Regions from separate parts of the Homo sapiens genome. Here region 2 is linked to region 1. Evidence: fine-mapped expression QTL. A gene starts in region 1. The other region holds a variant in brackets. All regions are shown on one strand. Distances are from middle to middle.

Region 1 (12,781 bases):
GCAGATAGTTAGGGATGACCATGAGGAGCATAATCAACAGGGATAGAAGTACACTTATACAACAGCACTTACATGGGCGGTTTCTCTGGTAGCATGTCCCATAAGAGGCCATATGCTTATAATTAATGTGTAACTTGTTGATGCTTTTGAGATCAGGACTGCTCCAGGCACGCTAAAAATGTGCTAAAGTATAGTGGGCTCTCTAAAAAGAGGCTATTTGGGAGTCTCTGAATTTTGTTTCAGAGTTTAGCCATCAGAAAGGTGAGTTTGGCCATCAGAGTTTTGTCCTGTGCACCATAAAAGTCTCTGAATTTTCGTTTCCTCATGTACCTTAATTTCTAAAACGGATGATAAAAGTTAGGTTGGACACAGAAGGGGCAATCAAATTTCTGTATTCAGATACCTCTTAAAGGTACACTGTGCCACCTTGCTGCCTTTGATTGCAAATACAAAGTTAATTTTCAAAAAGGAAAAACAAAACAGCTCTTTTTCCTAAAACACATGTTGTACTTCAGACCTAAAATTCTAAGTCTTATTTGTTTCTCACCCATGAGTTAGATTTAGGTAATAGTATTAGTAGAGTCCTTAGAGAATCTTAAGAGGTCATTTACTCCACCTCTTTCATTTTAAATTGGGGTATCCAAAGCCTGAAGAGGTGGCCTGGCCAATATTGACCAAGGTATAACTAAATATGAGCTAGCATCTTCTTCCTTCTTCTCGCTATCCCTTGGCTTTAAAAGATTTAGTACATGAAGAATAATGCATTAGCAAAAAGCTCCTAGTTTGTGTTTCCCCTTTGTGTCTCCCTGTTGGCTTTCTGAGACAACCTGAATTTTGCCAACAAAATATCGCAGAGGGATTTATATTAATTATTTTTTAGTTAGATGAATATTATATTCTTCCCATCCAAGTGAGTGATTTGCTAGGTTTGTTTAGGGAGGGAAAAAGCAAGAATAATGTGAGAAGAATCTAAATGCGAAGTTGATTTTGTGTGGAAAACTGTTTATTAGTTTCCATCAGGATTTTCTGTTTTTATTTTTGAGCTATGAGAGTGCATGCAGATTTGAAAAATTAGGCTTGCATAGTCAGAGGGGATCTTCAATTGTTATATTTGATACGTTTACATGTATCATTGTTATCATATGTAAATTATCATCATGTGAGTCAGATGTGAAGTATGATTTTTGTCTTTTGTTCAAATATTTAAAATGATAATACAGTTGAGTGGTAAGACTAATAGGTACCTTATGCCTAACATCACTCATTATATGGTCTAATGATGCTTCCTAGCATTGTGATTTTTACATGATCCAGCCAAAGAGTACCAATTCTATGCAATAGTGAGACTCTACCCTGTCAACCAAACAGCATTTTTTGGTATTTTCTGTCAACATCATTTCTTCACAGGGAAATTTCAAGTTGGAGTGCTTCGTTTGCTCACATTCATGTCTTGTTTTTGTTACTGGTTTGAAGACTAAAAGGCACGGGTTCAAATAAGATTGGTCTCTTTGGTTGGAGACTATTTCTGGGTTCATTCAGTTGTTCAAGAAACATTAGTTAAGCACCTACTGTTGCTAGACACTATGCTAGATACTGAGGATAATGAAGGTAAGATTGATATAGTCCCTGCCCTCATGGAGCTTATAGTCTCATGTGGTCTTAGTGAAACAAAGTCTCAATTTGCTTTTATACTAGAAATAATAAAGAAAGCTGCCTTGCTGTATTCGATCAGTTAAAATCAGCAACTTTGTGCTTTTGTATCAGTAAAACATTTAGTTCTCACCTTTTGAAAATGCAAACCACTGAAGTGATTTACAGTCTCCTCCATTTTTGGCTGGAGAGGTGTTCTGTTTCTGTGAGACATTTTTCTAATTTTTGTGGAACTTCACTTTCCTCCTTCTTTGCTTATACGTGTTTGTTAGATTATATTGCAAAGAAGTCAAGTTACTGATATCCAGTATTTTACAGAGGAAGATGACTTTCAAAACTAGTCATATTTCTGTAGAGGAGGAAGATTTTTAAAACCTTTATCATTCAGCATTTGTATTTTATGGATCCCCAGGAGAACTAAAAAGGAGATGACTCTCTACCATAGTTTGGTTTAAAAAAAAATTACTCTGTCAGTTATTTATTTATTATTTAATACTAAACTCCAAACTGAAGTGGCTCTGAGGTAAATCAGATATGATTTTAATTTAAGTTTCTTTATTAGCAGATCTATAAATGGAAGGTGACCAATGTCACTGCTTCTAAAATACTGTCCTAAACAACCCAGAAGATTTTATTTCAGCTCATGAATAGCTGTTCTAAATCTGTTGTATGTTAGACATACTATGAACTACCTCTTCACTTATTATGGGGAAGTTTCCTTAATAAAAGTGTGACGATTAAAGCTCTGGTGTCATTGGTTATTTTCTCACTCTCCCCTCCTTCTATTCTTTTTTAATTGCTTTACTTTGAATACAGGAAGGTCTTCTTTATGTATAGTCTTAAAAATACATATTAAGCATGCTGAGCTTGCCTTCAGAAAAAAATACGAATTAATCAGAAAGTTGTTACTAGATTCATTTACTTCCACGAGAACCTGTTGCTGGAGGAGCAGAGCAACTGCCTTTAAGAATTGGTTCAGAGGCGGCCGGGCGCGGTGGCTCACGCCTGTAATCCCAGCACTTTGGGAGGCCGAGGCGGGTGGATCACAAGGTCAGGAGATCGAGACCATCCTGGCTAACACGGTGAAACCCCGTCTCTACTAAAAATACAAAAAATTAGCCGGGCCTGGTGGCAGGGCATTAGTCCCAGCTACTCGGGAGGCTGAGGCAGGAGAATGGCGTGAACCCGAGAGGCGGAGCTTGCAGTGAGCCAAGATCGCACCACTGCACTCCAGTCTGGGCGACAGAGCGAGACTTTGTCTCAAAAAAAAAAAAAAAAAAAAAAAAAAAGGAATAGAATTGGTGCAGAGGCCGGGCGCGGCGGCTCATGCCTGTAATCCCAGCACTTTGGGAGGCCAAGGCGGGTGGATCACCTGAGGTCAGGAGTTCGAGACCGGCCTGGCCAACATGGTGAAACCCCGTCTCTACCAAAAATACAAAAAGTAGCTGGGTGTGGTGGCAGGCACCTGTAATCCCAGCTACTCGGGAGGCTGAGGCAGGAGAATTGCTTGAACCTGCTAGGCGGAGGTTGCGGTAGGCCGAGATCGTGCCACTGCACTCCAGCCTGGACCACAGAGTGAGACTCTGTCTCAAAAAAAAAAGAAAAAGAATTTCTTCAGTCATATCTTCATTCAGCACAAATACTTGATGCCTACCAAGTGCTAGACTTCGAGAATACAAAGATCAGTAAGCCACTGTCCTAAATAACTCTGCCTAGATGAGGCACAAATTAATACAGGCGTGTTAAGTGCAATAATGAAGGCAGGAAAAGGGATTACAGGTTTCAAACTGGGAACCAATTATCTTAGGGCAGTTCAGGATGGCTTCAGGATGATGAGATTTATAAACGGGTTCTTTAAAGATACGTTGGGGAAGGCCGGGCTCGGTGGCTCACGCCTGTAATCCCAGCACTTTGGGAGGCCAAGGCGGGCGGATCACGAGGTCAGGAGATCGAGACCATCCTGGCTAACACGGTGAAACCCCGTCTCTACTAAAAATACAAAAAAAAAAAAATTAGCCAGGCGAAGTGGCGGGCACCTGAAGTCCCAGCTTACTCGGGAGGCTGAGGCAGGAGAATGGCGTGAACCCAGGAGGCGGAGCTTGCAGTGAGCCGAGATCCTGCCGCTGCACTCCAGCCTGGGCGACAGAGAGAGACTCCGTCTCAAAAAAAAAAAAAAAAAGCCTGGGGAAAAGGCTAGGGCACGTCAGAGGAAACAGCTGGGCCAAAAGTTTTGGGATGGAGGAACGCATTTAAGTGTGAAGCTAGATCCAGAGGTTGGGGCCATCTCCTGATGGGGCATTATCTAGGCAATCTCGAATACGGATCTTTATGATAGTTTCTGCTCTGCCACCTTTCAAGTTGTAGGTGGCCCCAATAAGGAGAGGAATCGTCCCAGAATAATCCATAAAAGGTCTGGTTACTCTGACAGACGTGCCGTAACCGAACCTCAAACCCCGTCTCCAATTCGGATGTTCAGGAGGACTCACAAAAGGAAATGGCTCGGCTGGGCGCGGTGGCTCAACCCGGTAATCCCAGCATTTAGGGAGGCCGAGGCGGGCGGATCTCCTGAGGTCAGGAGTTCGATACCAGCCTAGCCAACATGGTGAAACCCCGTCTCTACTAAAAATACAAAAATGAGCCGGGCGTGGTGGCGGGCGCCTGTAATCTCAGCTACTTGGGAGGCTGCGGAGCGAGAGTCGCTTGAACCCGGGAGGCGAAGGTTGCAGTGAGCCGAAATCGCGCCATTGCACTCCAGCCTGGGCAACAAGAGCGAAACTCCGTCTTAAAAAAAAAAAGGGATGGTGGGGGAAAACGGCTCGAGTGCCGAAACTGGGACAAGAGAGATGGGGCTTGCCGGCATTCAGGAGCCTTTCTGTCATTCCAAGAGGGGGGAAGTGAGGAAGGAAGACCGTCTCAGAATGTCCTTCCGGGGCGCCTAGAGGGCCCCAGTAAAGAATAAAGCTGGTTGGCACCGGATGTGTTTTCTTCCAGGCTAAGTCCATCTTCCGGCTTGGGCAGACGCTGCCGCGGAATCCTTGACTCTAGTTTTCTGAGTCGGTGAGTGAGTGCAAAGTAGATTCCTCAGGTGGAGGGTGCCTGAGGAAGAGGAGGAGGAGGAGGAGGACAGCTGGGCTCGGCCCCGGAGTGGCTAATCTTGTGCTGCAACCACTGGGCCGACAGGGCCTTGGCCCTTCGCAGGGTTGCCTCCAGAATACCTGTGTGCTGAACCTGGCATCCGGTTTCAGTTCAGCAGATGTTCCCTGAGCTCCTCCTGCTCTGTGTGGGCCCCTGAGCTCGGTGCAGGAACACAGATGCATCAGGCACCATCTCGCGGTGCTCAGAGAGCAGCTGACTCTCTCTGGTTGAAACGGGAGGTGGAGTCATATTAGTTTTACTTGATTTGGGCTTAAAGGAGCCTAATCACTAGCTGAAAAAAGGAACTGGAAACGCGAATGTAAGAAATGTGTATTCGTGTCTTTTTGTCTGGGTAATGATGGAAAAATTTAGTATTGAACGAGGTTCGAGTATGAAAAAGAGAATAGAAGGTGATAAAGCCATAAAGATGGGTTAGAGCCAAATCGTGATGGGTCTCGTATTCTTTCCTAAGAAATCTGGACTGTCCCGGAGGTAGAGAAGAACGATAGAAGATTTAAAGCAGAAAAGGGAAATTAAAAATAAAATAAAATAAGGGTTGTTAATCCTGGTGGCACTCAGGCGGGTAATCTGGCATACAGAAGAGTGTGGTATAAAGAAGACCTGTTGGAAGACATTGCAGTTGTCCAGGTGAACCGGAAGGAGGACCTGTTGTAGTGGTGGGGAGTAGGAAGTTTGGAGATTACGTTAAAGTTGCTAATTGGATATATTATGTTAAATCAACTTTTTGGTGGTCACAGTGCTTATATTGGATATTCAAAATTGATAGATTGTTCTTGACCACAAGGCACACAACATTTAGCAAAAGAAACAAGCTAGAAACTGTTCACTACAATTCATTGTAATGAATGTTGTAACAAAGTTATGAAAAATGTGCTATGAGATCATAGAGAAGTGCATTATAAAGTTCTCGTTTTGAGATGGTGGCATAAAGGTTCATAACACCTACATTAGACTTTGAGTCTTCTTCTTCCTAATTCAGGTTTGGGGTTTTTCGTTTGTTTTCACCATTACAGCATGGGAAAGCATTCCCTATCCTTATTACATCAATGTTTGTGTTTTATTTTGCTTAGATTGTGATCATGGCTGCTGAGTCTGATGTTCTGCATTTCCAGTTTGAACAGCAAGGAGATGTGGTCTTGCAGAAAATGAATCTTTTGAGACAGCAGAATTTATTTTGTGATGTATCAATTTACATTAATGACACTGAGTTCCAGGGGCACAAGGTGATTTTGGCTGCTTGCTCCACTTTTATGAGAGATCAGTTTTTACTCACACAGTCAAAACATGTCAGAATCACCATCTTACAGAGTGCAGAAGTTGGCAGAAAATTGTTACTGTCTTGCTATACTGGAGCACTTGAAGTTAAAAGGAAAGAGCTTTTGAAATACTTGACTGCTGCCAGTTACCTTCAGATGGTTCACATTGTGGAAAAGTGCACAGAAGCTTTGTCAAAGTATCTGGAAATTGATCTTTCTATGAAAAACAACAACCAACACACTGACCTGTGTCAGTCTTCTGATCCTGATGTTAAGAATGAAGATGAAAATTCTGATAAAGACTGTGAGATAATTGAAATTTCAGAAGATAGTCCTGTAAACATAGATTTCCATGTTAAAGAAGAGGAAAGCAATGCTTTGCAGTCTACAGTAGAGAGTCTGACATCAGAGAGAAAGGAAATGAAGTCACCAGAGCTGTCTACAGTAGACATAGGTTTTAAAGACAATGAAATTTGTATCCTTCATGTAGAATCCATCAGTACAGCTGGTGTCGAAAATGGGCAGTTTTCACAGCCTTGTACCTCTTCAAAAGCAAGCATGTATTTCTCTGAAACACAGCATTCATTGATCAATTCTACAGTTGAGAGCAGAGTGGCTGAAGTTCCTGGGAATCAAGATCAGGGCTTATTTTGTGAGAATACTGAAGGAAGTTATGGTACAGTGAGTGAGATTCAGAATCTGGAGGAAGGTTATTCACTGAGGCACCAGTGCCCCAGGTGTCCTCGAGGCTTTCTTCATGTTGAAAACTATCTGCGCCACCTTAAAATGCATAAACTATTCTTATGCTTACAGTGCGGAAAAACATTTACACAGAAGAAAAATCTCAACCGACACATCCGAGGACACATGGGCATACGGCCCTTTCAGTGTACTGTGTGCTTGAAGACATTTACTGCCAAAAGCACACTTCAGGACCACTTGAACATACACAGTGGGGATCGGCCATACAAATGCCACTGTTGTGATATGGATTTCAAGCACAAGTCTGCTCTCAAAAAGCACTTAACCTCTGTCCATGGCAGAAGCAGTGGTGAAAAACTATCTAGGCCTGATCTCAAAAGGCAAAGTCTACTATAATTATAATCACAGACTTGTTATATAAAGTTTGTATTATTCTATTACGCAAGTCTTTCTGTAGAGATGCAGCATTTGTAATATTTCATCCCCCCAATCTTTGTTTCTTATATTTTGTCGGCTTACACATAATCATTCTTTCTGAACTTCTAACAGTTCCAAAGTTATGGGAGGCACAGTAAAGCTGATGGGATTCTGTCTCATCTCATACCTTACATATAAGTCTCAGTAGTATCCCTAGAGAAATAGTGTTCCTCTCTTATATATTCTTGATTCTAGTGACAAAGGATCCAGCAGTATTTGCAGATTCCGATTTGGAGTCTCTAGGTAATTGATTTAAGTATAAAATCCAATCATATAAAAACTTTAATGAATTAGGATAACAAGAAGAGAAAATAAAGGTAAAAACACTATTACCTGTTTCTAGTCACTTTAGAACAGATGGCACTAAAAAAATTTTTTTTTAACTTTTTACCAGCTGTTCTTGGATTCCAAACTAAACACCAAGATACTTTTCATTTTAAAATGTATAAAGTAACAATTCAGATTCACTTGGGAATAGCAGAATTTTTTTATACAGGGTTAATAATCCTTAAAATACTTTTATTTCCATGCCTTATTAGTATACATACTTAAGAAATGGTTCATTGGGCCCGAGTTTCTTGATTTTATTTAATACAATCGGATTTAATAATTTTGTGGCCAGTAAAATTATACCATTGGCATGAAGCTGTGAAAAATGAGAAATTCTACCTTTACCAGGGATATCTGTTCTACTGTTTTAAAAGTTCCTCTCTATTTTATTTTTTATTTAACATGAAGTAAAATTGAAATTTCTTCTTGGTGTATAGTTCTGTGAATTTTAACAGAAAGATTTGTGCACCACTACTGCAGTCGGTACAGAACAGTTCCTTCACTCCCAATAGCTCTCTTATGCTGTCCCTTTGTAGTCAGCTCCTTCTAGCTCTAATCCTGGCAACAGTTCTCCGTCACTATTATTTTGCCTTTTCTGGACTGTCATATAAACAGAATCTTATAGTACGTTCCCTCTTGAAATGCTTTTTCACCCAGCATAATGACTTTGAGGTTCATCCATGTCATTTTAAATTTTGAATTGGCAATATATATTCTAGCTGTTACTAGATGAGCAATTTAAAAAGGTGTAGCTATTAGTGTTGTATTTTTTCATTTACATTAATGTAATTTCCATTCACTATGTGTTGATAAAAATCTTAACCATCCCTAGAGTTTTATATTTCCAAAAATATGCCAAAAGGAAAACTATGACTGTATGATTATTTTAGCGAGAGTCATATTTGAGATGGTGTTCTGAGCCATAGTTCTCTAACATCTCCGTCTACATATAACACAAAACTTTTATAAATTATTTTAACAAAGATTAAAATATACTGCAGGGCAAATAATATTCTCTAAAACACAGGAACTGCTTTTCGTAAAGAAGACTGACTAGATGCATCTTTCTTTGAAGCTGTTCTAGTCCTCCTCTAGTTAACTTAGCTTTATGTAGAATTTCTACTGTATTTAATTTCTATTGAAGCCCTTCTGTATTTTAAAATGTAATATACTTTGTACCATTTATAAAAATTGTGTGATGAATGAATCACATGTTCGTTGTTATAAGTGTTAACCTTTTTTTGACAATTTTGTGGGAAAGACATTCTCCACTGAATTTTAACTTTCCTTGAGACTTTCAAGAATGCAGGTCTCGTTTGATGAAAAAACCGACTTCATAACCCAATGTTACTAGTTAGCGACATTGTGCTGAATTTCTCCTTGAACTTTTTAACTTTATATGTAAAATAACTTTGATCTTGGTCATTTGAAAGATCATTTCCAGGTCTAAAATTCCATGATTTTGTATTTAATTCTTCCTGAGAACAGAAGAGGGGAAAGCAAGAGAGGACGGTTTTGTGTCTTTATGAACTTTGTTACTTAAGTACTCCATTGGAGACATAATTTTTCTAATTAGTGGATCTTTTTCCACTGGAAAGTGTGATAGCTCATTGCTAATTTTTCATTCATAGTTCATTGCTTCCATTTGACCTAAGATTGGCCATTTGTTGGTGTGAAAATATTTTCTTTTCAGAAATAGTTTACTAGTGATTGAAGTACTTTTCTTATTTTTGCTTCCTATTATAAAATGGCGTGGGGGGAAGGGGGAAGGATGGAGATGGGAGGAGAGGGTAAAAGAATAGTACTCTGATTTTTTAAGAATTAGTATCTACTATCTTGGATATTTGAAAAAAAATTGGTTGAAACTATGTTTAAGTTTTATGTGTGCCTTGTAAGATTGTTGTAAAATTTTTTGTGAGCACTTTGAGATTTTTGCTGGGGGAGGGGTGTTTTGTGAAAGTGATGGTTATTATTTATATTATTTATTCCTGTTCAGTAGCACGGAATGATCTCCAAACATTCCTAGGAGAGTGTCTGTTTGCATGATATGTCTAAAAATTTTCAGGAAAATGGAATCTTTTTTTAAAGTTCAGGTATGACAAAGTATAGAATTTATTCATTTAACATATTCACATTTAGTTTATGTTTCTGATATGACAGAAAAATGAAAAGTGTTTGAGTTCAGCCTCTTCATTTACTCCATTTACATATAAAAGATCTTGAAAAGGTAGTTGTTACTTCGTTGTCAGAGAAAAACACTTGCCCTTTTTCCTGGGATGTAACTATCTTACATGTTTACATAAGAAATAATAAACTGGAGGTGGGAATGGAGAACAATGTGTTTTGTCTTCATCTTTGAATTTTAAAGGATACAATTTAAAGGATACAATTTCTCCTGACTATACATTAATCATTCATCTAGCAAATACTTCCTGAGTCCTTACAATGAAATATAAGTTAGGTATACAGACAAAAATTCCTGCTCTTGTGAAACATCTTAGTGAAGGGAGACAAACAGTAAACAAGTAAGTAAAATCCATGTATGTCAAATTTTGAGAAGGAATTTGGAGAAAAATCAGGAATAGGGAGTACCAGAGAAGGGGGATGGAATTGCAATTTTAAATATGGTGGTCAGCGCCGGGCGCCGAGGCTCAGGCCTGTAATCCTAACACTTAGGGAGGCCGAGGCTGGCAGATCACTTGAGGTCAGGAGTTTGAGACAAGCCTGGCCAACCTGATGAAAACCCTTCACTAAAAATACAAAAATTAGCCGGGCATGGTAGCGCTTGCCTGTAATCCCAGCTACTCGGGAGTCTGAGACAGGAGAATCCGTTGAACCTGGGAGGCAGAGGTTGCAGTAAGCCAATATCGCACCGCTGCAGTCAGCCTAACTGAGGGAGCAAGACCCCATCTCAAAAATAAATATGGTGACCAGGACACCTTTGAAAAATCTCGGATTATCAGAAATATATATTCTTCTGTCTAGTGAAATGTAAATATATCCAGTAGAATAGAAAAATTTGGCCTGGACTGGTGGCTCACGCCTGCAATCCCAGCACTTTTGGAGGCCGAGGCAGGCGGGTCTTCTGAGGTCAGGAGTTCAAGACCAGCCTGGCCAACATGGTGAAAACCCGTCTCTACAAAAATACAAAAAAGAAATTTAGCCGGGCATGATGACGGGTGCCTGTAATTCCAGCTACTGGGGAGGCTAAGGCAGGAGAATTCCTTGAACCCAGGAGGTGGAGGTTGCAGTGAGCTGAGATCACACCATTGCACTCCAGCCTGTGTGACAGAGTGAGACTCCGTCTCAAAAAAAAAAATATGTACATATATGTATATATAATGTGTATGTTTATATGTGTATATATACTTATATGTATCTATATATGTGTATATATATTTATATGTATGTATATATGTATATATGTGCATATATGTATATATGTGTGTATATATATATATACACAGTAGGGTGGAAAACAAATATGTACATGTAAATTACCTATCACTGTCCAGTTGAAATTACTGAAACAATTATTGGTTGTTAACAGTTCTCTAGGCCTGGCATATGTTTCATAAAGAGAAGAGAACGAAAAAGATAATGTGTGGAAGAAACGTCTTCGATGTGGCCAATGAATCTTTTTTCAAAAACACTGATTTTTGCCTGTCATTCAGACAAATATAATAGGTAATAACTATATATTTTGTTAAAACTGTAGAAGCAACCTTTCCATATTCTAATTTATCGTAGGTTTACTTCGATATTTTTGTTGTTGGGCATCTGATTTCACATTGGAAAGTGCCTTGAGTTTAATTACAAGTCATGGTCATTTTTTTTCTTCTTTTTTTTGTTGAGACGGAGTCTGGCACTGCCCCCCCGCCTGGCTGTAGTGCAATGGCGCGGTCTCGGCTCACTGCAACCTCCGTCTCCCGGGTTCAAGTGATTCTCCTGCCTCAGCCCCCCGAGTAGCTGGGATTACAGGTGCCCGCCACCACACCCGGCTAATTTTTGTATTTTTAGTAGAGCCAGGGTTTCACTATGTTGGCCAGACTGGTCTCTAACTTCTGACCTGGCGGTCCACCCGCTTCGGCCTCCCAAAGTGCTGGTATTACAGGCATCAGCCACCGCGCCCGGCGTCATGGTCATTTTCTAGCCTACATTCTTTAGTTTCTCATCAGTAACAAGGGGTACATTGTATCTGTCTTCTAGGATCACTTTGCTAATTAAATGAAATGTAAATAAAACTAAAATATTTAAAATTAAATATCACCTAACACAGGACCTGCCTGACACATACTAAGTAGTTTATAAATGTTAATTCTGATATCCCTATTCCAAGTCTGTTTCATCTATAAATTATAAACTGTAAGAATAATTCTTACCTTAGTTCGCTGTGTAAAAAGCTTCAACAAATATTTGAGATATGATGCCAGAATTTGTGCTTAAATTTTTTATTTTTGCCAGCTTTTGAGGAGCTCAGAGCTTTCTTCCCCCCCTCCCCCCCCCACTTTGGACTCTTTGTCTAGAAACAGAGTTTTCTCTTTAATAAAGAAGTGAGATGTGGAAGTGCCTGCCAAATACATGTTTTCTTCTTGTTTTTGTAATGGGGAGATTACTTGACATCTTTGTAAAGGGATTGAGGGATCCTGTCGGCATGTCATCACAGGAGTGTGAAGAAGAATGTGACACAGATGTATCAGATTCTGCTCAATGGATTCCACGCTTTTCACGAAGGGAGTTAAGACACTCGCTCAAACCAGCGTCTAGGAAGCCGGCTCAAGGCGCAGATGAATGTGCAGGGAATTTCCCATCAATCCCTTCGGCTTGCCTAGTCCTTCTCACAGTACCTCCCACAGTGCTCCGGGGCTCCCTTGTCACGTGATCGGGGTGGATCCGCTGAGGCAGAGGGAAGTTGATTCGCAGTTTGGGTGGCTGGGGCTACTACGCTTTCCTTCCAACTCCCGACTCCCGGGCTTGCGTAATCTCGCGTTAAGTGGGGAGTAACTTCTCGCGAGAGCTAGATCGGGATCCCTCCAGGTCCGCCTCCGTGGTGAGGAGGAGGAGGAGGAGGAGGCGGAGGTGGAGGGAGGAGGAGGAGGCCCCGTCGCGGCCTTCGCCGCCGCCAACGGGGCTGTCCCTGTAGCTCCCGATGGAGTTTGAGGTCGTGAAACCTCCGCCGAGCTCTGCCCCGGCGAGACGAGGCGCCTCCG
Region 2 (12,781 bases), 38 kb after region 1:
TTTTGCAACGAACAGGTGACCCAGCTAACTTAAATAGACTGAGGCCTCATTTAGAGCTTCTTGCAAACATAGACCCTAATCCAGGTATGTGGGAATATGCTCAGTTGCTTATATTTTTTTCTACTTTTGAGGTGAATAACACAAGAGAATTACTGCTAACATTCTTCCCCCCCAACCCCCATGCCCTTGGTGGCTTATTTTAGACGCTGTTTCACCAACTTGGGAGCAGCTGGAAAATGCAATGGTAGCTGTTAAAACAGTAGTTCATGGCCTTGTGGACTTCATACAAAATTATAGTAGAAAAGGCCATGAGACCCCTCAGGTAAGTACATTTATTACATTTCTGACTGCTGTTGTCTCTAACTCAGTTTCATCCTGAACATCTTAACCAGCTGTTTTGTTAATTGGACTCCGTATGTGACTCATAAGTTTCTATCATCTCTATTCTTTTGGGAGGAACCCAGTTTTTAGTGTACTTGGTAAACATTTCATAGCACACCAAGAGTTTAGAGGGTATCTTGGGTGTGAGTATACTTTATTGCAGAATATTTTTGACCAAATGTAGATAATTGATTCCAAACGTTTTGTCTCATTCTTTTCTACTGTGGGAAATTGTCATTTTTTTTCTGTATTGAATTTCTATATGTAAATTTATGGAATTTGAATTTTCTTTCTTTTTTTTTTAGACAAAGTCTCACTCTGTCACCCAGGCTGGAGTGCAGTGACGCTATCTCAGCTCACTGCAACCTCTGCCTCCTGAGTTCAGGTGATTCTCCTGCCTCAGCCTCCCAAGTAACTGGGATTACAGGCAAGTGCCACCACGCCCTGCTAATTTTTGTATTTTTTGTAGAGAGGGTTTTACCATGTTGGCCAGGCTGGTCTCAAACTCCTGACCTCAGGTGATCTGCCCACCTCGGCCTCCCAAAGTGCTGGGATTACAGGCGTGAGCCATCGTGCCTGGCCGAAATTTGAATTTTCAAGATACTTTTCAGTGTACTTTAGAAGTTAAGATATAAACCTGGCCAGGCACAGTGGCTCACGCCTGTAATCCCAGCACTTTGGGAGGTTGAGGTGAGTGGATCACTTGAGGCCAGAAGTTCGAGACCAGCTTGGCCAACATGGTGAAACCCCATCTCTACTAAAAAAAAAAAAATACAAAAATGAGCCAGGCATTGTGGTGGATGCCTGTAATCCCAACTACTGAGACGGCTGAGTCAGGAGAATCGCTTGAACCCGGGAGATGGAGGCTACAGTGAGCCGAGATCGCGCCACTGCACTCCAGCCTGGGCGACAGAGTGACTCTTGTCTCCAAAAATATAAAATAAAAAGAAGTTAAGATATAATCCTTTATACTTATAACTTCTATTTAATAAATTATTATGAGCCATTCACTACATTCAATGTTTTACATGTATTATTTCTTATCCTCACAGCCACCTGCAATGTAGTTGCTGTTTCCAAGCTGAAATTCAAAGAGGTTAAATAACATAAGATTGTGCTGTCAGGGGGCTGGGCGCGGTGGCTCATGTCTATAATCCCAGCACTTTGGGAGGCTGAGGCGGGCGGATCACAAGGTCAGGAGATCGAGACCATCCTGGCTAACATGGTGAAGCCCCATCTCTACTAAAAATACAAAAAATTAGCCGGGCGTGGTGGCAGGCGCCTGTAGTCCCAGCTACTTGGGAGCTCTCTGAGGCAGGGAGAATGGCCTGAACCCGGGAAGTGGAGCTTGCAGTGAGCTGAGATGGCGCCACTGCACTCCAGCCTGGGCAACAGAGCAAGACTCCGTCTCAAAGATAAAAATAAAAAATAAAAAAGGTTGTGCTGTCAGTAAGAGCTGGGATCAAACCTACACTTTGTACTCTTCTCTCCTTATTCTTAGAAGATATTATAACTTAAAATATTAAAAACAAATGTTTTCATCCTAGGCTCATAAGAATAAGAATGTCTTAGATTTTGATGCAAATTGTAGAAGTAATAGTGAAATTTTAATATTCTGCCTCATTGTATGAACTCAAATAGTTTAAGCCTGAGAGTTGCACCCTCAAGCTGACAAGTGAATTGGTAATTTTTCACTTCTAGGTGGAATTGTATTCTACCTTTTCTGAGAAAGTTTAAGTAGACAAAGCTTTTGGTTTTTTTTTAATGCTTTTTAAAATTGTTTGATTTTGGTAGCAGAATTTTAAGACAGCAATAAATTGATGAAAAAATATTTTCTTTTTCTGGGCATTCTGTTAACTAATGAATAAATGGACATAACATTTGAACCAGTTTCGAATAATCTTCAGAAGGAATATCTGAAGTGCCAATTCAGGGTTATGTCACATAACTCACAACAGGAAACAATGGAATATTAGTTGTTTCAGCACAAGAATTACTTGTCTAATGTGAAAAAGAATTAAAGGTGTAATTATAAAGTTCTGAACTTCCTAGAGTGAATAACAAATGGAATCTTCACCTTGCCACTCATTGAATGTGTTCCCATTTTTGTAGCCTCAGCCAAACAGCAAATACAAGACTAGCATGTGCCGAGATTTGCGACAGCAAGGGGGTTGTCCACGAGGAACAAATTGTACATTTGCCCATTCTCAGGAAGAGCTTGAAAAGTAAGTGTTGAGAATTCTGTTTCATATGGGTTTAATTTTTGATTTTTATGGGAATGTTATATACAGTCCTGAAGTTTGTGATGACTTTCAAAAATGCAAGTTAAGGGCTGGGCACCATAGCTCATGCCTGTAGTCCCAGCAGTTTGCGGGGCTGAGGCAGGAGGATTGCTTGTGCTCAGGAGTTTGAGACCAGCCTGGGCAAGATAAGGAGACCCCCGTCTCTACAAAAAATTTAAAAATTAGCTGTGTGGCCCACAGTTGTGGTCCCAGCTGCTCAAAAGACTGAAGTGGAAGGATTGCTTGAACCCCATAGGTCAAGGCTGCAGTGAGTGTGTTCACACCACTGCACTCCAGCCTGAGGGACACAGCAAGACTCTGCCTCACAACAAAACATATAAGATCTGGGTACAAGATTTACATAAGTGATTTAGAACTTTACTCAGTGGTCATATTTTGAGACCATTTTATAGCTGGAATCCATATTTATACTGAGCACCTGTGCAGAATGAAAATACTTGCAGTCTTATTTGCTCAGATTCAGTTAAACCTAGCAGCAAAGTCTCAGGCAAAATGGTAAAGCAGATATATATCCTTTTTACGGCTTTTGGTCTTTTTAACATTCTTTTTCCCTGTGTATTCTTTCTCTTCTCCTATGGTTAACCCCTTTTTCTATGTCCCTTTACCCGAGACCTAAAAGTTAATGTATGTAAGGTTTAATACTATTATCCAATTTTTGTTGTTTTGTTTTTTAACTAAGACTTTCATTTTTGAGACCTCACCAAAAAATTGATCCCAGCTTTTCTACTTTCTGCTGGCCAGTGTATCAACTTTTTTTTTTTTTTTGAGGTGGAGTCTTGCTCTGTCGCCCAGGGTGGAGTGCAGTGGCATGATCTTGGCTCACTGCAACCTCTGCCTCCCCTGTTCAAACGATACTCCTGCCTCAGCCTCCCGAGTAGCTGGAACCACAGGCGCCCACCACCATGCCTGGCCAATTTTTGTATTTTTAGTAGAGACAGGGTTTCACCATGTTCACCAGGCGGGTCTCAAACTCCTGACCTCAAGCGATCTGCCTGCCTTGGCCTCCCAAAGTACTGGGATTACAGACGTGAGCCACCACACCTGCCCTGTCTATCAACTCTTTGTGGGCATATTCATTTTGTTTTTAGATACTTTAAACAAACTGAGCTAATTTTCTCCCATACCTCCTCCTCCTGCCTTCCATTGTACTCACCTCGTGTACCCAGTTTAGCCATCCAGCCTGTTATATATGCTGTGTTATAATAATCATATTTGTCAGCTGTCCTTCCTTAGCTTTTTCTGCTTAATCAGTCAAAAAGTTCTGCCAATTCATCTTCCTATATATTTCTCAGTTCTTTATTCTTCTTTCCATCCTTGTGATCCAAGCTGTCATCTCCTTTTCTCGATCCCTTGTTGCCTTCTCACTAGTCTTAAATCTCTCGCTGTCCACCCCTTCTCCCATTATTTCCCTTAAAACAGAAATATTTTAAAAGCACAGATTTACTCATACCACCCTTCTTCACCTAAGCCTTTGATAGCCTCTCATTGTCCTGTAGATTAAGAAATAAAATCTATGTTGTGGCCTCTAAGACCCTGCATCATCTAATCTGTGTCTGCCTTTCTGATCTCATTACACAACACTAATTGTACTCAAGCCACACTGACCTTCTCTCAGTTTGTGGTATGCACTGTGCTCTTTCCCACCTCAGGTCTTTTACATAATGCTGTTACTCCTAGCCTTGCCTTTGAGACCTTTCCTTTGTCTAGCTCATCCTTCGCTTTTTCAGGGTAATTCCCCTGACACTTCATACTAACCAGCTTCCTCTTTCAAACACTTATCACATAAAATTAATTAGTGGCCTGTTTTAGAGCTTGACAAACTTCTTTATGAAGTCCAGCTAGCAAACATTTTTGGCTTTGTGGGCCACAGAATCTGTTACAACCACTCAGCAGTGCCACTGTAGCAAAAAAACAGCCACAGACAATGCATAAATTGGGCATGGCTGTAAACTTTATTTATAAAAACCCTTTACAGAAACTATGGCCCATGATCTGTTTATTAAATGTTTGTCTATCTTACATAAGTGTAACCCCCGTGGACTATATCTTCATTGTTGTCTCCTTTCCTCAGTGGCTAGCTTGGGCACTGTACATAATGAGCTCTACAAGCAGCAGCATTGTGATAGAGAGAAGATAAGTGTGTGTGCAGTGAAAAGAGCAGAAACATGCTTCTCTTCTCAGTTTTTTTCCCCACTTGAAGTGCCTAGAGAAGAGGATTAAGGAGTCCTAAGGAAAAAAGATGCTGTTTGTACCCAATCGAACTAGTTCTATATACAGAATTTCACATCAAGATAATTTGGGAGACTCCAGGAAATACATTCAGCTTGTCCATACCTGAAATAGAGCTTTTTAGCTAAAAGGGGAGCTTTTGAGAAAGTTCGACTAAAAAAGTCAGAGAAGAAACTGTGGTTTCATTGCCATTCCACCCTCAATTAGTGCCCAGGCTGAAAATCCATTTTCTTCTTTCTCATACCTTCAAACAGACTTCACATTCTTCATCTGCAGTACCTAGTTCAGAACTTTATTATATTTTGCCAGACTTGTAATAGTAGCAGTAAAAATAATAATAGCCAAACTAGGTGTAGTGGCTCATGCCTGTATTCCCAGCAGTTTGGGAGGCAAAGGCAGGAGGATACCTTGAGTCCAGGAGTTTGAGACCAGCCTGGGCAACATAGTGAGACCTCACCTCTACAAAAAAATAAACAAAATTGGCTGAGCATAGTGGCATACGCCTGTCATCTTAGCTACTCAGGAGGCTGAGGTGGGAGGATTGCTTGAACTCGGGAGGTCAGGTCTGCCGTGAACTGAGATTATACCACTGTATTCCAACCCGGGCAGCAGAGCAAGACT[CTG/G]TCTCAAAAATATAAATAAATAAAAATAATAAAATAATAAATATATAAAATATCACTCATTCAAAAATAATAATAATGGCAAAATTATTGGTCACATTTTTAGTGTTTCACATGGTAATCCAGTTGGTTTTACTGCTTCAGTGGCTTTTTATCCAGTATCTTCCTATATCTCAATCTGTCTTTTCCATTTCCACTATTTTCTTTTTAAAATATGTGTGTCTCCTTTAAATTCTTAATTAGTTCCTCAGTACATCACAGAATCTCATCCTGATTTTATCCTCTAGCTCTACTCTGCCATTTGTATACTTTGTTTTTAAGGTATATTCAATTAATCACTGTTGATTACTATATAAATTTCTTTTACTCTTCTTTTCACTTGTCTATATTGTTTATTCCATATTGTATTATTTTCTCTCTCCTCTTTATCTGGATAACTATTTCTAATCATACTCAGATATTATCTTCCCTCCACAGACTTCCCTAGGCAGTGTTAATTGCATCCTTCACCATGCTGCCATAGCACTCCATACATAGTAGTTTAAAAATTATGGTATAGTTAGCTGGGTGTGGTGGCAAGCACCTGTAATCCCAGCTGCTCGGGAGGCTGAGGCGGGAGAATGGCTTGAACTTGGGAGGCAGAGGTTGCAGTGAGCCGAGATGGCGCCACTATACTCCTGTGTGGACGACAGAGCAAGATTCCGTCTCAAAAAAATAAATATAAATAAATAAATAAAAATTATGGTATAGTTATAAAACTACAGTATTATAATTGTTTATTTACATGTGTGTTTTCACTGGACTTCATTTATCTCATGGGTTATTAATCTTTTTTTTTTCTGGAGACAGGGCCTCACTCTATAGTGCAGTGGTATGATCTTGGCTCACTTGCAACTTCTGCCTCCCAGGCTCAGGGGATTCTCCCACCTCAGCCTCTCGAGTAGCTGGGACCACAGACACACGCCACCATGCCTGGCTAAATTTTTTTTATATTTTTTGTAGAGATGGGGATTCACCATGTTGCCCAGGCTGGTCTCGAACTCCTGAGCTCAATCTGCCCACCTCAGCCTCCCAAAGTGCTAGGATTACAGGCATGAGCCATGGCACCTGGCAAGGGTTCTTCATCTTTATATTTCCTGCATCTAGAAAACACCTGATAACATAAACTCAGTATGTTTATGTGGAGGAGCAAATAATATACAGTTCTTACTTCTTATTTCCAACCAGCTTCACACTCTATTGCTGTTTAAACAAACAGGGATAATACAAAGGATTAGAAAAGTAGGTGATGTGACTGTCCTTTCAGTTTAAAAAATACATATTGCTACCTCACTCTGAGCTTTTTGAGGATAGGCTGTTTGTCTTAGTTCACATAACACCAGAAATTCAGCAAATGTTTGTTCAACTTAAATAAATTAATTTTACCTATATTTTCTTTCTCTATTATACACCCCTCTAACCAAACAAAATGTGGATGCTCAATAATCCCTTCTTAGAATACATATTTATTATATGTAAACATAAAATAAATATGTAGAATAAATATTATGTAAATATGTGGATATGTTTTAGAACTAGGATGTTGGGGTTATGTTCCAAAGAATTGCTACATTCTGGGGAGTGTCAAAAGCGAGGGATCAACCAACTCAACAAATAGTGGCCAGGAGCAGTGGCTCATGCCTGTAATCCCAGCACTTTGGGAGGCCAAGGCTGGTGTATCACTTGAGGTCAGGAGTTTGAGACCAGCCTGGCCAGCATGGGGGAAACTCTGTCTCTACTAACAATACAAAAATTAGCCGGGCATGGTGGTGCACGCCTGTAATCCCAGCTACTGGGGAGGCTGAGGCACGAGAATCGCGTGAACCTGGGAGGTAGAGGTTGCAGTGAGCACCACTGCACTCCAACCTGGGTGATAGAGTGAGACTTTGTCTCAAAAAAAAAAGTTATAAAAGATTATTATATACTGGTTACTATTCAAGATGTTTCTAATGGAAAAAGAGGAACAGTAAACATGTAAATAAGCAATTTTGGCCATAGCAAAGAATTTGGATTTTATTCTGTTTGCAATAAGAAGTCATTTTAGAGTTTTATTTAAATGGAATGATGAAATTTTCATTTTGTCTTAGACATATCACTCTGGTGTCTGCATGGATGGAGACAAGTTAAACTTCTATATTGGTCCACAGGTGGGAGTTTGGTAGCTCGGGTAGGACTATAGCAATGGAAATGATGAAAAGTAGTCATACTTAGGATATATTTTGGAAGTAGAGCTGACAACATGGACCAATTGAATGTGGGCTATAAAGAAAAGAGAGGAATCAAGGATGACTCCAAGGTATGGAGCCTGCATAACTTAGTGGTCTCTTGCTGAAATGGGAAATGCATCAGGGCAGAAAATCAGTGGTTCTCTTGGCCATAATGATGTTTGAAGCTTATTCTATATTAATGCAACAAATAATAATTGGGGGCCGGGTGAGGTGGCTCACGCCTGTAATTCCAATACTTTGAAAGGCTGAGGCAAGAAGATCACTTGAGCTCAGGAGTTTGTGACCAGCCTGGGCAACATAGCAAGACCTTGTCTCTACTACAAAAAAAAAAAATTGGCTGGGCATGGTGACTCACTCCTGCCTGGGTGATGGAGACTCTGCCTTTAAAATAATAATAATAATTGGGCACTTGGGATGTTATGAGACAGTGTATTGTGTGCTAAAGATAGAGAGATGCAAGAAAGGCAAAAGTCTTGTCCTCCGGGGGCTTACATTGTAGTAAGAAGACAGACATGAAATAAATAAATATAGCATAATATCTTGTAATGACAGGCAGTATGAAAAAAAAACACAAAGGAGAAAAAGAGTGATTGAGAAAGGGGAGATCTCTTAGATAGAATAGTGTAGGAAAGACTCTTAGAAGATACAACATTTGGCCAGGCGCAGTGGCTCACGCCTGTAATCCCAGCACTTTGGGAGGCCGAGGCAGGCGGATCACAAGGTCAGGAGATCGGGACTATCCTGGCTAACACGATGAAACCCCCCCCCCCACTAACACGGTGAAACCCCGTCTCTACTAAAAACAGAAAAAATTAGCCGGGCCTGGTGGTGGGCAACTGTAGTACCAGCTCCTCGGGAGGCTGAGGCTGGAGAATGGCGTGAACCTGGGAGGTGGAGCTTGCAGTGAGCTGAGATTGCGCCACTGCACTCCAGCCTGGGCAACAGAGCGAGACTCCGTCTCAAAAAAAAAAAAGAAGATACAACATTTGAGCAGGTAGTCAAAGAAGGTGCCCACGAGAAAAAAAGATAATTACCTCAGTGAAGTCTTAGAGGAAGGCAAATGGGCTTGAGACCTAGGCCACAGGTGGTGAGACTGGCTTTAGTCAGGAACAGGAACTCATTGTCCCTTATCTTTAAGAGGAATGTGGCTACAGGTGCAGGAAGGTTACTGGAATTGGTAGCGGAAAGATAAATTATTCTCCTCTGCTTTCATCTATTTTCGTGGTTAAGTGGGAAACAATATCATCTAGCTGTAGGAGGGGTGGTTGAAAGTGGAAGGGAAAAGGCTATTGGAGATGGGAAAATGAACTTAGTAAAGAAGCGTATTAATGAATTATTTATAATTTTGAAGGGATTATAGACAGCGTGATTGCACAATTTTTCTCCAACATTTAGCTGCTTGGTAGCAGGCACAAAATAAGTAAAGAATTGGATTGAGCTTTTACCAAATGAGATACAGAGGGAGTGGATCAAGGGAGTTAAAAATTATTTACAAGGGAGGGATTAATGGTAGATAGTGGATTCTAAGATGGGTAAGAAGGGATTTAAAAAGAATAGGGAGAGTTACGCATGGTGGTGCACACCTGTAGTCCCAGCTACTCTGGAGGCAGAGCTGGGAGGATCACTTGCATTTAGGATTTAAGGCAGTCTAGGCAACATAGTGAGATCCTGTCCCTGAAAAGGCAGCCTTTAGCTGCCCCAATACTAAGAATTCAGTGTATATCCCTACTTGTCACTTGCTTTACCTCACTTGGTTAAGATTTTATTTCTCCTGACTCTTTTTTGAGAGGTTCATAGTTAAAACTTTATTTTTTGCTTTCTAGAGCAACCTTGTGGATTATCTCAGTTTGTTGTTTTTTTTTTGTTTGTTTGTTTGTTTGTTTGTTTGTTTGTTTGTTTTTGGAGACAGAGTCTTGCTCTGTCGGCCAGGCTGGAGTACAGTGGCACAATCTCGGCTCACTGCAACCTCTGTCTCCCAGGCTCAAGCAATTCTCCTGCTTCAGCCTCCCAAGTAGCTGGGATTACAGGCATGTCCCACCACTTCTGGCTAATTTTTGTATTTTTAATAGAGACGGGGTTTCACCATGTTGGCCAGGCTGGTCTTGAACTCCTGACCTCAGGTAATCCACTCGCCTCAGCCTCCCAAGGTGCTGGGATTACAGGTGTGAGCCACCATGCCCGGCCAAGTTTTATTTTTTGAGGATGGAAAGCAAGGAGACACGATATTCTGTATAGGAACTCTGAGGAAAAGAATAATGAGAGTAGGTTTCAGAGAGAATGTGGAGGAAGGCATAGGGATCTTTGGGCCCCTCCAGACAACCAGATTGTCTTCCTGAAATATAGGTCTGCTCATGCCCTTCTTGAAAGAAGTAATTATTGGTTTTCCTCTTATCTATAAGATGATGTTGGCCAGGCACAGTGGCTTATGCCTATAATCCCAGCACTTTGGGAGGCCAAGGCAGGCGGATCACTTGAGGTCAGGAGTTTGAGAACAGCTTGGCCAACATGATGAAACCCCATCTCTACTAAAAATACAAAAATTAGCCAGGTGTGTTGGCAGGCGCGCGCCTATAATGTGCACCTGTACTCCAGAGGCTGAGGCAGGAGAATTGCTTGAACCCGGGAAGCAGAGGTTGCAGTGAGCTGAGATCACACTATTGCACTCCAGCCTGGGTGACGAGCAAAACTCCGCCTCAAAAAAAAAAAAAAAAAAAAATCGTGTAAACTGGCCATCACCTGTTTTTTTAATATTCTGTTACTTCACTTTTAGCCAGTCTAATCTAGGAGCACTTGTCTTTTATTGAGCATCACCTTCCTCTGCCAATGTGTACATGTTAAAGAGAAGGAGAAGAGAAGGACTGAATAATGAAGTTGTTTATAGATACCAGAGGACTAAAAGGGAAACTATTGTGAAGGCATTGCTTACTACTAACACTTTATATTTAATTACCATATGTTTATATATAACATTAATAACATTACTTTAGGCATATATAATTATGACACCAAATATGTATAGTCTTCTTTCTGTTCGTGAACTTAATTTTTCACCGCTTTAAAAATGTTGTAGGGGCCAGGCATGGTGGCTCACACCCGTAATCCCAGCACTTTGGGAGGCCGAAGTGGGCAGATCACCTGAGGTCAGGATTTTGAGACCAGCCTGGCCAACATGGCAAAACCCCATCTCTACTAAAAATACAAAAGTTAACCAGGCGTGGTGGCAGGCACGTGCCTGTAATCCCAGCTACTTGGGAGGCTGAGGCAGAAGAATCACTTGAACCCAGGAGGCGGAGGTTGCAGTGAGCCGAGATCGCGCCATTGCACTGTAACCTGGGCGACAAGAGTGGAACTTAACCCCCCCACAAAAAAAAAAAAAAAAAACACATACACACACACACACACACACACACACACACACACACACACACACACACACATATAGGAGGGAATATTGTTAAGGATTATATTATAATGAAATTTTGGTGTATACATAGAAACACATTTTCTTTTTATTTATTTATTTATTTATTTATTTTTTATTGATCATTCTTGGGTGTTTCTCACAGAGGGGGATTTGGCAGGGTCATAGGACAATAGTGGAGGGAAGGTCAGCAGATAAACAAGTGAACAGAGGTCTCTGGTTTTCCTAGGCAGAGGACCCTGCGGCCTTCCGCAGCGTTTGTGTCCCTGGGTACTTGAGATTAGGGAGTGGTGATGACTCTTAACGAGCATGCTGCCTTCAAGCATCTGTTTAACAAAGCACATCTTGCACCGCCCTTAATCCATTTAACCCTGAGTGGACACAGCACATGTTTCAGAGAGCACAGGGTTGGGGGTAAGGTCACAGATCAACAGGATCCCAAGGCAGAAGAATTTTTCTTAGTACAGAACAAAATGAAAAGTCTCCCATGTCTACTTCTTTCCACACAGACACGGCAACCATCCGATTTCTCAATCTTTTCCCCACCTTTGCCCCCTTTCTATTCCACAAAACCGCAATTGTCATCATGGCCCGTTCTCAATGAGCTGTTGGGTACACCTCCCAGACGGGGTGGTGGCCGGGCAGAGGGGCTCCTCACTTCCCAGTAGGGGCGGCCGGGCAGAGGCGCCCCTCACATCCCCGACAGGGCGGCTGGCCGGGCGGGGGGCTGACACCCCCACCTCCCTCCTGGACGGGGTGGCTGGCCGGGCGGGGTGCTGACCCCCCAACCTCCCTCCCGGACGGAGCGGCTGGCTGGGCAGAGGGGCTTCTCACTTCCCAGTAGGGGTGGCTGGGCAGAGGCGCCCCTCACCTCCCGGACGGGGCGGCTGGCCGGGCGGGGGGCTGACCCCCCCACCTCCCTCCCGGACGGGGCGGCTGGCTGGGCGGGGGGCTGACCCCCCCACCTCCCTCCCGGACGGGGTGGCTGCCGGGCGGAGACGCTCCTCACTTCTCAGATGGGCCGGCTGCCGGGCGGAGGGGCTCCTCACTTCTCAGACGGGGCGGTTGCCGGGCGGAGGGTCTCCTCCCTTCTCAGACGGGGCGGCTGGGCAGAGACGCTCCTCACCTCCCAGACGGGGTCGCGGCCAGGCAGAGGCGCTCCTCACATCCCAGACGGGGCGGTGGGGCAAAGGCGCTCCCCACATCTCAGACAATGGGTGGCCGGGCAGAGACGCTCCTCACTTCCTAGATGGGATGGCGGCCGGGCAGACGCTTCTCACTTTCCAGACTGGGCAGCCAGGCAGAGGGGCTCCTCACGTCCCAGACGATAGGCGGCCGGGCAGAGGCGCCCCTCACATCCCCGACAGGGCGGCTGGCCGGGCGGGGGGCTGACCCCCCCACCTCCCTCCTGGACGGGGTGGCTGGCCGGGCGGGGTGCTGACCCCCCAACCTCCCTCCCGGACGGAGCGGCTGGCTGGGCAGAGGGTCTCCTCACTTCCCAGTAGGGGTGGCTGGGCAGAGGCGCCCCTCACCTCCCGGACGGGGCGGCTGGCCGGGCGG

The links.
Region 2: its variant is fine-mapped to the expression of ZBTB6 in whole blood (INTERVAL, PIP 0.93).

What each region holds. Positions count from the first base shown.
Region 1 is chr9:122,905,177-122,917,957 of GRCh38, reverse strand. It overlaps ZBTB6 (zinc finger and BTB domain containing 6), which reads left to right and starts at 4,635. Exons shown (of 2, transcript NM_006626.6): 1 at 4,635-4,707; 2 at 5,877-9,902. The coding sequence starts at 5,886. The coding sequence ends at 7,160. It overlaps ZBTB26 (zinc finger and BTB domain containing 26), which reads left to right. Exons shown (of 2, transcript NM_020924.4): 2 at 1-2,392. It overlaps RC3H2 (ring finger and CCCH-type domains 2), which reads left to right and starts at 12,599. Exons shown (of 21, transcript NM_001100588.3): 1 at 12,599-12,781. RefSeq lists enhancers at 2,345-3,102, 4,571-4,800, 4,811-4,920 and a silencer at 12,495-12,781.
Region 2 is chr9:122,867,296-122,880,076 of GRCh38, reverse strand. RC3H2 (ring finger and CCCH-type domains 2) reads left to right here. Exons shown (of 21, transcript NM_001100588.3): 7 at 1-84; 8 at 204-322; 9 at 2,494-2,606. Among named protein-coding and RNA genes, the nearest start is that of SNORD90, 6.6 kb to the left of the region's middle. The variant CTG/G (reference allele first, on the strand shown) is at 5,535.